Homo sapiens: one gene and its partner. The protein of the gene in region 1 purifies or fractionates together with the protein of each later gene. This does not show direct contact. Each region holds a gene or a part of one and is shown on either strand. Other genes may lie near its edges. The genes, in order: RNPEP and HAVCR2.

Evidence for each region.
Region 2: the proteins of RNPEP (region 1) and HAVCR2 purify together in Homo sapiens (co-immunoprecipitation; one large-scale study listed by IntAct). This does not show direct contact.

What each region holds. Positions count from the first base shown.
Region 1 is NC_000001.11:202,002,887-202,006,700, reverse strand, and holds the end of RNPEP (aminopeptidase B), read right to left. Parts: intron 3,578-3,814; exon of another isoform or gene 3,465-3,577; coding exon 3,240-3,464; intron 2,348-3,239; coding exon 2,205-2,347; intron 1,144-2,204; coding exon 985-1,143; 3' UTR 558-984; downstream 1-557. UniProt on the Homo sapiens protein: Exopeptidase which selectively removes arginine and/or lysine residues from the N-terminus of several peptide substrates including Arg(0)-Leu-enkephalin, Arg(0)-Met-enkephalin and Arg(-1)-Lys(0)-somatostatin-14.
Region 2 is NC_000005.10:157,098,971-157,102,786, reverse strand, and holds part of HAVCR2 (hepatitis A virus cellular receptor 2 precursor), read left to right. Parts: intron 1-3,816. UniProt on the Homo sapiens protein: Cell surface receptor implicated in modulating innate and adaptive immune responses. Generally accepted to have an inhibiting function.

The DNA of each region.
Region 1 (3,814 bases):
TAGAGATGGGGTTTCACCATGTTGGCCATGCTGGTCTCAAACTTCTGACCTCAAGTGATTTGCCTGCCTCAGCCTCCCAAAGTGTTGAGATTACAGGCGTGAGCCACCACGCCTGGCTTTTTTTTTTTTTTTTTTTTTTTTTTGGTAGAGATGAAGTCCTGCTATGTTGGCCAGGGTGGTCTCAAACTCCTGGGCTCAAGCGATCCTCTCGCCTCAGCCTCCCAAAGTGCTGGGATTACAGGCATGAGCCACCGTGCCCAGCCCATTTTTTTTTCTTAGTGATGGAAAAGATAATGGGAATGCTGCTGCAGATAGAGAATTCAGCTGCTTCACGGAGAACTGGAATGCTATTCCTTTTTCATTTTCCTGCACCAGCTGTGCCATTTTGCCATATTTTTTTTCATATGCATGTGTAGGACACCCACCTCCTTCACCCTGGCTGTTCCCTGAGGACAGGAAAATACTGTCATTCTCTGGGCCTCCCCCAGTGACCTTTCCTGAACAAACACAGTGAGGACCTCTGGTGGAAGAAATTTAATAGTCACTCAATCCGTAACTTAATTTTTGCTTGAAAACTTTATTAAAATAAGGATTAAACCTGAAAAAAGAACAATCAGAATGCCAGCCCTTTGCATAAAATCAGCAAGAAAAAGGACAGAAAGAGAAAAAAGAAGAGCATCAGTCCTCTCCACTTCTTCCCAGAGACTTAGGTGGGGAGGAGAATACCCGCTGCCCTGCAGTGCCTGCAGCCTGTAGCGGGGAGAGCTGTGGGCAGGTTCTCTGTCTCGGGGCTCAGTGGGCTATAGAGAAGTAAGTTCCCACCAGAGCAGAGGCCCAAGAGTCACAGATACCTAAGCTAGAGAATAGATTATCCTGAGGGGATATAAACTCCAGGAAGTTGATCAGGGAACAGGAATTTGGGAACAAACAATTATTCTGAAAGCCTGGAGAGCCTGAAGAGGCAGGGGCCATGCACACGAGCCTCTAACTGCCCTTGGGTGCCACGATCTGCTGGACATAGTTGACAACATTGCTGTGGAGCTGGGAGGCGGTGGATGCAAAAGTCTCCTTGGCGAGGGTCTGGGCCACCTCACTGCCACCCATCATTGCGTGGTACAGCGGAAGTGTATACTTCTGCTTCCCCTGCAAGAAACACACATACACATGCCTAAGAAGCTTGCCTGGTGGATCTGTCCAGCCCTGCTGCCCCCAGTGCCAGTCTAACAGCAGCCATGGCTAGGTGCTAAAAGGGATGTGGGCATCACAGCTGGAATGAGGAGCTTCTCATCAGAAGTGCTCTAATTCAGGCATCTTCTTGGGCGCCAGAGATCCATGGAGATGGATCTCAATACGCGTCCCAATCCATACTAACATGGGGACGTCTACAGTCAACAAAATGAATGAGTTGGGTGGACACAATGGGATTCCAGACTTCTGGAAAGGTGTAGGTGGTGAGCCACCACGTGAATAGCAGATATCAGCAGCTGCGGCACATAAAGCTCACAGCCGCATACGGTCCAGCTGCAGTCAAGCAAAGGAAAACCCACAGGTCAACCCACAGGTCAAATTCACACAAATATAAGCCAGCGACATCACAAGTTCCTAAAATCCAGAGCCTTGAGGAAGCCATCAAAGGGCTCAGAATATCCCCGAACAGGCAGGCAGCCCTGACTTTATGCAGAGCAATGCTTCGTCTCCGGTCCAGCCCCTCCCTGCTCCGGAATCTGATGACATTCAGTTCATCCTGAGAGCCCGGGGCCTTTCCCCAACAGGGCAACTTTCACATAGTGACAGAGGGTCTGGCTGCTGTCCCGATCATGCCCAAGTCACAGGGCAGCAGGGACCTATCCTCCAAGCCTTTGTTCCTCTTGCTCCGCCTCTGGCCCCTTTCCCTCTTGTGTTTCCCACATGACACTGTCACCCTCTTTCCCGCCTCTGCGTTGGCTCTGGCCAGCTTTTTTCCCTGGGGTCTCACCAGCTGAATTGCAGAAAGCACTGCAAGCCTGCAGGCCTCCTCTTGTCCCTAGGGCAATGCCTTCAAAGCCACACTAGTAAAGAGGCTGAGTGGTAGGGTCCTCAGGTCATTTGCCCCTCCCTCTGTGCCTCAGATGAGTCCTAGATGAGCCCTGCCCACATGATTACTTCACATATGGCCGAGTGGGTCCCAGTGTGCTTTCGGGAACAGCGAGGCAGGGGTCACCCACCTGGTTATGCAGGAACTCCTTCACTTTCCAGAAATCTTCCTGGTGGTCGTTCTTAAGGACGATTTGGCCCCATCGCAGCCGGAGCTCTGCATTCCGGGCATTTGAGATACTTGGGTATGTGTCTCCAAGTTTTTTCACATTCCCTGGAGAAGAGAAAGAAATGGTTTGTGGCTGGTCACGGTGGGTCACACCTGTAATACTAGAATTTTGGGAGGCTGAGGTGGGCGGATCACTTGAGGTCAGGAATGTGAGACCAGCCTGGCCAATATGGCGAAACCCCATCTCTACTAAAAATACCAAACAAAACTGGCCGGGTGTGGTGGCGCACGCCTGTAATCCCAGCTACTTGGAGGCTGAGGTGCTAGAATCAAGAATCACTTGAACTCAGAAGGTGGAGGTTGCTGTGAGCCAATAGCACCACGGCACTCCAGCCTGGTCGACAGAGCAAGATTAAAGCAGACATATTCCCCCAATATCTGTCCCATTTTTTCTCCTACCACTCATCTGCTAAAAGTCATCTTGGCTCTAACTTTTTTTTAACCCCTTGGTGAATATTATGTTGACTGAGCAGCCACAAAGCATTAGAGGTTGAGAGCTCTGGATGACTGGGTTCTGTGCGAACTGTTTGTACCTCAAGTTCATTCTGTCACCTGGGTATTAACATCACACCGCCTACTTCCCAGAGGAGTTGTGGGAATTAAATGACTTAATAGACACAAAAGCCTTACAAGAGTCGCCTGCAGGAGCTTCGGACTTGAGCAATGCCAGGCTTTGTGACTTTGTCCTTGAGGTGCTTGTAAGTAGAACCCATAACCTCCCGATGGCACATTCCTTGTGGAGTGCCAGCCTCCCTAGTGTACGTGGCAGTCCCCTAACCCATAACCTCCCGGTGGCACATTCCTTGTGGAGTGCCAGCCTCCCTAGTGTACGTGGCAGTTCCCTAGGGGCAAGCATCACTACTTTTTGTGAGCCTCCCTCTAGCCCCTGACATAAAGCTGTGCACACAAGGAGCCCTGGTTCACCATTTTTTCTTACCAGGAGGGAGAGGGGATTTCTGGAGGATCTTATCCAGGAAGTAGACCAGCTGGTAGGTCTTCCAGGGAGAGATGGCCACGGCTTCAATGGCCTTCATGTCCAGCTCCTCGGCTGCCCACAGTTGGGCTAGCTCTTCAGCAGGCTTCATGAGTGAGTCCCCAGGGGAGAGATCAGGGAGGTACGGGGGCCAGCCGGGGGTATTCAGCCATCGATCAAACTCAAAACCTGTTTGGGAGGAGAGAAGACACTATCAGAATTCTCTGGCCAGGTTACGGTCAACTGGTTTAAGCAACTCCCAGAGACCTCAAGTTTCTCCTCTCTCCATCCCAAACTCTTTCCCCAGCATTTAACATTACTTTCCCATGTAACTATTCGCTCCAGCAGGGTCCTAGTTATAACGACATCTAGAGACTGTGCCGTTTCGACCGTGAAAGTGCTTTTCGCTCCAAATTAGCACTGTGTTGTCAGAGCCAAGTTGGTGGATGCTCTATTCACGTGCACATTCTCCTACCGATCACAACCACACTGTACTTAAGCACCCAGGCTCTAGGACCAGGCTGCCTGGGTTCCTACCC
Region 2 (3,816 bases), on another chromosome or scaffold:
ATTTTTGTATTTTTATTAGAGACGGGGTTTCACCATGGTGGCCATGCTGGTCTCGAACTCCTAACCTCAGGTGATCCCTCTGCCTCGGCCTCCCAAAGCGCTGGGATTACAGGTGTAAGCCACCACGCCCAGCCTTCCCTTTAGTTTTTGTTTGTTAGTTCCTTCCCTCTAGGGCAACAAAAATGGGAATATAGGAATAATACCTCGAACCTCTGAGCTTCTCAAGGGCCTGACTGAGAAAAAATATTGAAACAACCAAAAATAGGTCAGTAGCTCCTAAATAGGAAAATAAAATAAAAAATTGAAATGAATGAATATTTAATGGTTTGTCTATAATATGTAACATTATGTAAATTGGCTGCTGGCAAACCAACTCTAAATGTGGGATGTGGGAGCATTTAATATAAAAATGGGGCTGGGCACAGTGGCTCACATGTGTAATCCCAGCACTATGGGAGGCCAAGGCAGGCAGATCACTGGAGCTCAGGAGTTCAAGACCAGCCTGGGCAACATGGCAAAACCCCATCTCTACTAAGAATACAAAAAATTAGGCTGAGTGCAGTGGCTCACACCTGTAATCCCAGCACTTTGGGAGGCCAAGGCAGATGGATCACCTGAGGTCAGGAGTTTAAGCCAGCCTGGCCAAGATGGTGAAACCCCTGTCTCTACTAAAAATACAAAAATTAGCTGGTCATGGTGGTGCATGCCTATAATTCCAGCTACTCAGGAGGCTGAGGCAGGAGAATTGTCTGAGCCTGGGAGGAGTGAACCGAGATCTCACCACTGTCCTGAAGCCTGGAAAACAGAGCGAGATTCCATCCCAAAAAAAAAAAAAAAAAAAAAAATAGCCGGGCATGGTGGCATGTGCCTGTAGTCCCAGCTACTTGGCAGGGCTGAGGCAGGAAGATTGCTTGAACTCAGGAGGTTGAGGATTCACTGAGCCGAGTTGGTGCCACTGTACTCCAAACCTGGGCAACAGAGCGAGACCCTTTCTCAGAAAAAAAAAAAAAAAAAATGGAGTAGAGCCTTTAAAAGTAAGAGATCCAAGGGCCTGGAATTTGAACACAGAACAAATGCAACTTGTCTTCTACCTGAAGGAGTAAGGACTGGGTCACAGGTGAGTCCTCAGCTCTAGAGTAGATCTGCTTTAAATCCTAGCTTTCCCAATTAATAGCTGTGTGATCTTGGGCAAAGTGGCTCTCTCAGACTCAGTATCTTCATCTGAAAAATGGGGAAAATAGTAGTACCTACTTATTGTGGTTGAGGATTAAATGAGATTGTATGTATATGGTGCTAAGCACCATGTCTGGCACCTAATAAGTACCAAATAGATGGTAACTACTAAATTTATACACTGTTAAGGCCATCACATCTCACCTCCGCTGCTACCTGCCCCACCAGGCAAATCTTGGTTTCTCCAGAAAGAACATTGCCACTCCCTTCAACTGTCCCATCCATCTTGGTTGGTGGCCAAATCTGTGTGAAAAAAAGCTGTAATGACACAACAGTGCTTGATTTTACTGATCATTTTCATAGCAAAATGAAGTTTTTAAAAAGTTAGTTTTACCATTTTTATCAAGAAAAATAATTATAAGGAGTCTGAAACTGGATTTACATTTAAAATCTTATGTGCACTTAAGATTCATGTTTACTTAGCAGTTGTACTGATGAGGGTCTTTTTTTTATTTTTTTGATATGGAGTCTTGCTCTGTCACCAGGCTGGAGTGCAATGGTGTGATCTCGGCTCACTGCAACCTCCACCTCCTGGGTTCAAGCGATTCCACTGCCTCAGCCTCCTGAGTAGCTGGGACTACAGGCGTACACCACCACGCCCGGCTAATTTTTTGTATTTTAGTAGAGATGGGGTTTCACCATATTGGCCAGGATGGTCTCGATCTCCTGACCTCGTGATCTGCCTGCCCTCGGCCTCCCAAAGTGCTGGGATTACAGGTGTGAGCCACTGCACCAGGCCTGTGGTTTTTATATTTTAAATTTTTTTCTGGTAATTAGGGCAAAAGTAATTGGAACATAATCTTTTTTTCTTCAATAATTTTAGGCTGAGGCTATGCCTTTATAATATTTAAACTATAGTTTGCTAAACCAGCATTTAGTCAAACCCTTTATACACATTAAGGCTTCCAGAAGGTGACAGTGACATTTAAGAAGTTTCAACATCTCTGACTCAGCCATAAAAATGAGTAAGCATGCTTAGTTTTCCAAAAGCTGGCAATGTACTTATTTTTAGAATTCAGTGTTCATGAGGTCAGGGCCTGTGCCCCTCTTGTTTCCTGCTCTGTCCCCTGTGCCTAGAGTAAGGGCATAGTGCATATTCATGGAATGGATCAGCAGATGAAGAAATAAACAAATGAACAGGAAGGAAAGATGGTGAGTGGGTGGCTGGGCAACGTGACCCTCTTCATAATGACAGCACTGAGGTAAGGGCTGGTGAAGGCAGTATAATTAAGAATGTGCATTTAAGGCTATGCAGACCTAAATTGGAAGGCCATTTTGTCATTTGCTAAGTCATGTGACCTTGGGTTAGTCACTTCACTTCCCTAATTTTCAGTTTCTTCATCTGTGCAATGGGACTAACAGTCTCTACTTTAGAAGCGTAGTTCTAAAGTAAGTGCTTCTAAGTATCTCTAAAATGAGCTTCTTCACTGAAAGAGTTTATTTAGCACAAGGCCTGGCTCCTATTACATTGTGACCACAGTGATTATTTTCATTTGTTGGCAACCCTGTCTCCCTTCTCATGAGTAAATGCAAAACTTATTTAAGAAAATGGAGGCTGGGCACGGCACGGTGGCTCACGCCTGTAATCCCAGCACTTTGGGAGGCCGAGGCGGGTGGATCACTTGAGGTCAGGAGTTCGAGACTAGCCTGGCCAACATGGCGAAACCCCGTCTCTACTAAAAATACAAAAATTAGCTGTGTGTGGTGGTGTGCCCCTGTAGTCCCAGCTACCAGGGAGGCTGAGGCAGGAGAATCGCTTGAACTCAGGAGATGGAGGTTGCAGTGAGCAGAGATCATGCTACTGCACTCCAGCCTGGGTGATAGAGTGAGATTCTGTCTCGCAAAAAGAAAAAAAAGAAAAAGAACATGGAGGTTGCAGTGAGTTGAGATTGTGCCACTGCACTCCAGCCTGGGCAACAGAGTGAGACTGTCTCAAAAAAACAAAAAAGAAGGAAATGAATTTTTGTTGTCTTTTAAAATCTAATTAGAATATAATGCCTGAGGCCAAGCCTGGTCGTTCACACCTGTAATCCCAGCATTTTGGGAGGCTGAGGTGGGCAGATCACCTGAGGTCAGGAGTTCACAACCAGCCTGGTCAACATGGCCTCGTCTCTACTAAAAATACAAAAATTAGCTGGGCGTGGTGGTGCATGCATGTAGTCCCAGCTACTTGGGAGGATGAGGGATGAGAATTGCTTGAACCAGGGAGGCCGAGGTTGCGGTGAGCTGAGATTATGCCACTGCACTCCAGCCTGGGTGACAGAGTGAAATTCTGTGTCTAAATAAATAAATAAATAAATAATGCCTGAGTCTTATCAATATTGCTAGATGTTTGTAGAACTCATTAGGGTCCTGTGAAAAAAACAAAGCACATATTTAATGTAGGACTTCCTGGCAGAAGTCTCTATTTCATAAAACAGTACGGTTCATTATCTAGATGAAAAAATGTGGCCATCCTAAAGTTGATTCCTGGGTGTTCAGTAAATTTTGTCTGTCTCTCCATTAATTATTGTGACAAGTACGGAGTAGAATTCATTTCAAATAGGATTATAGGCATCATTAAGATTTTTTAAAAACTTAGAT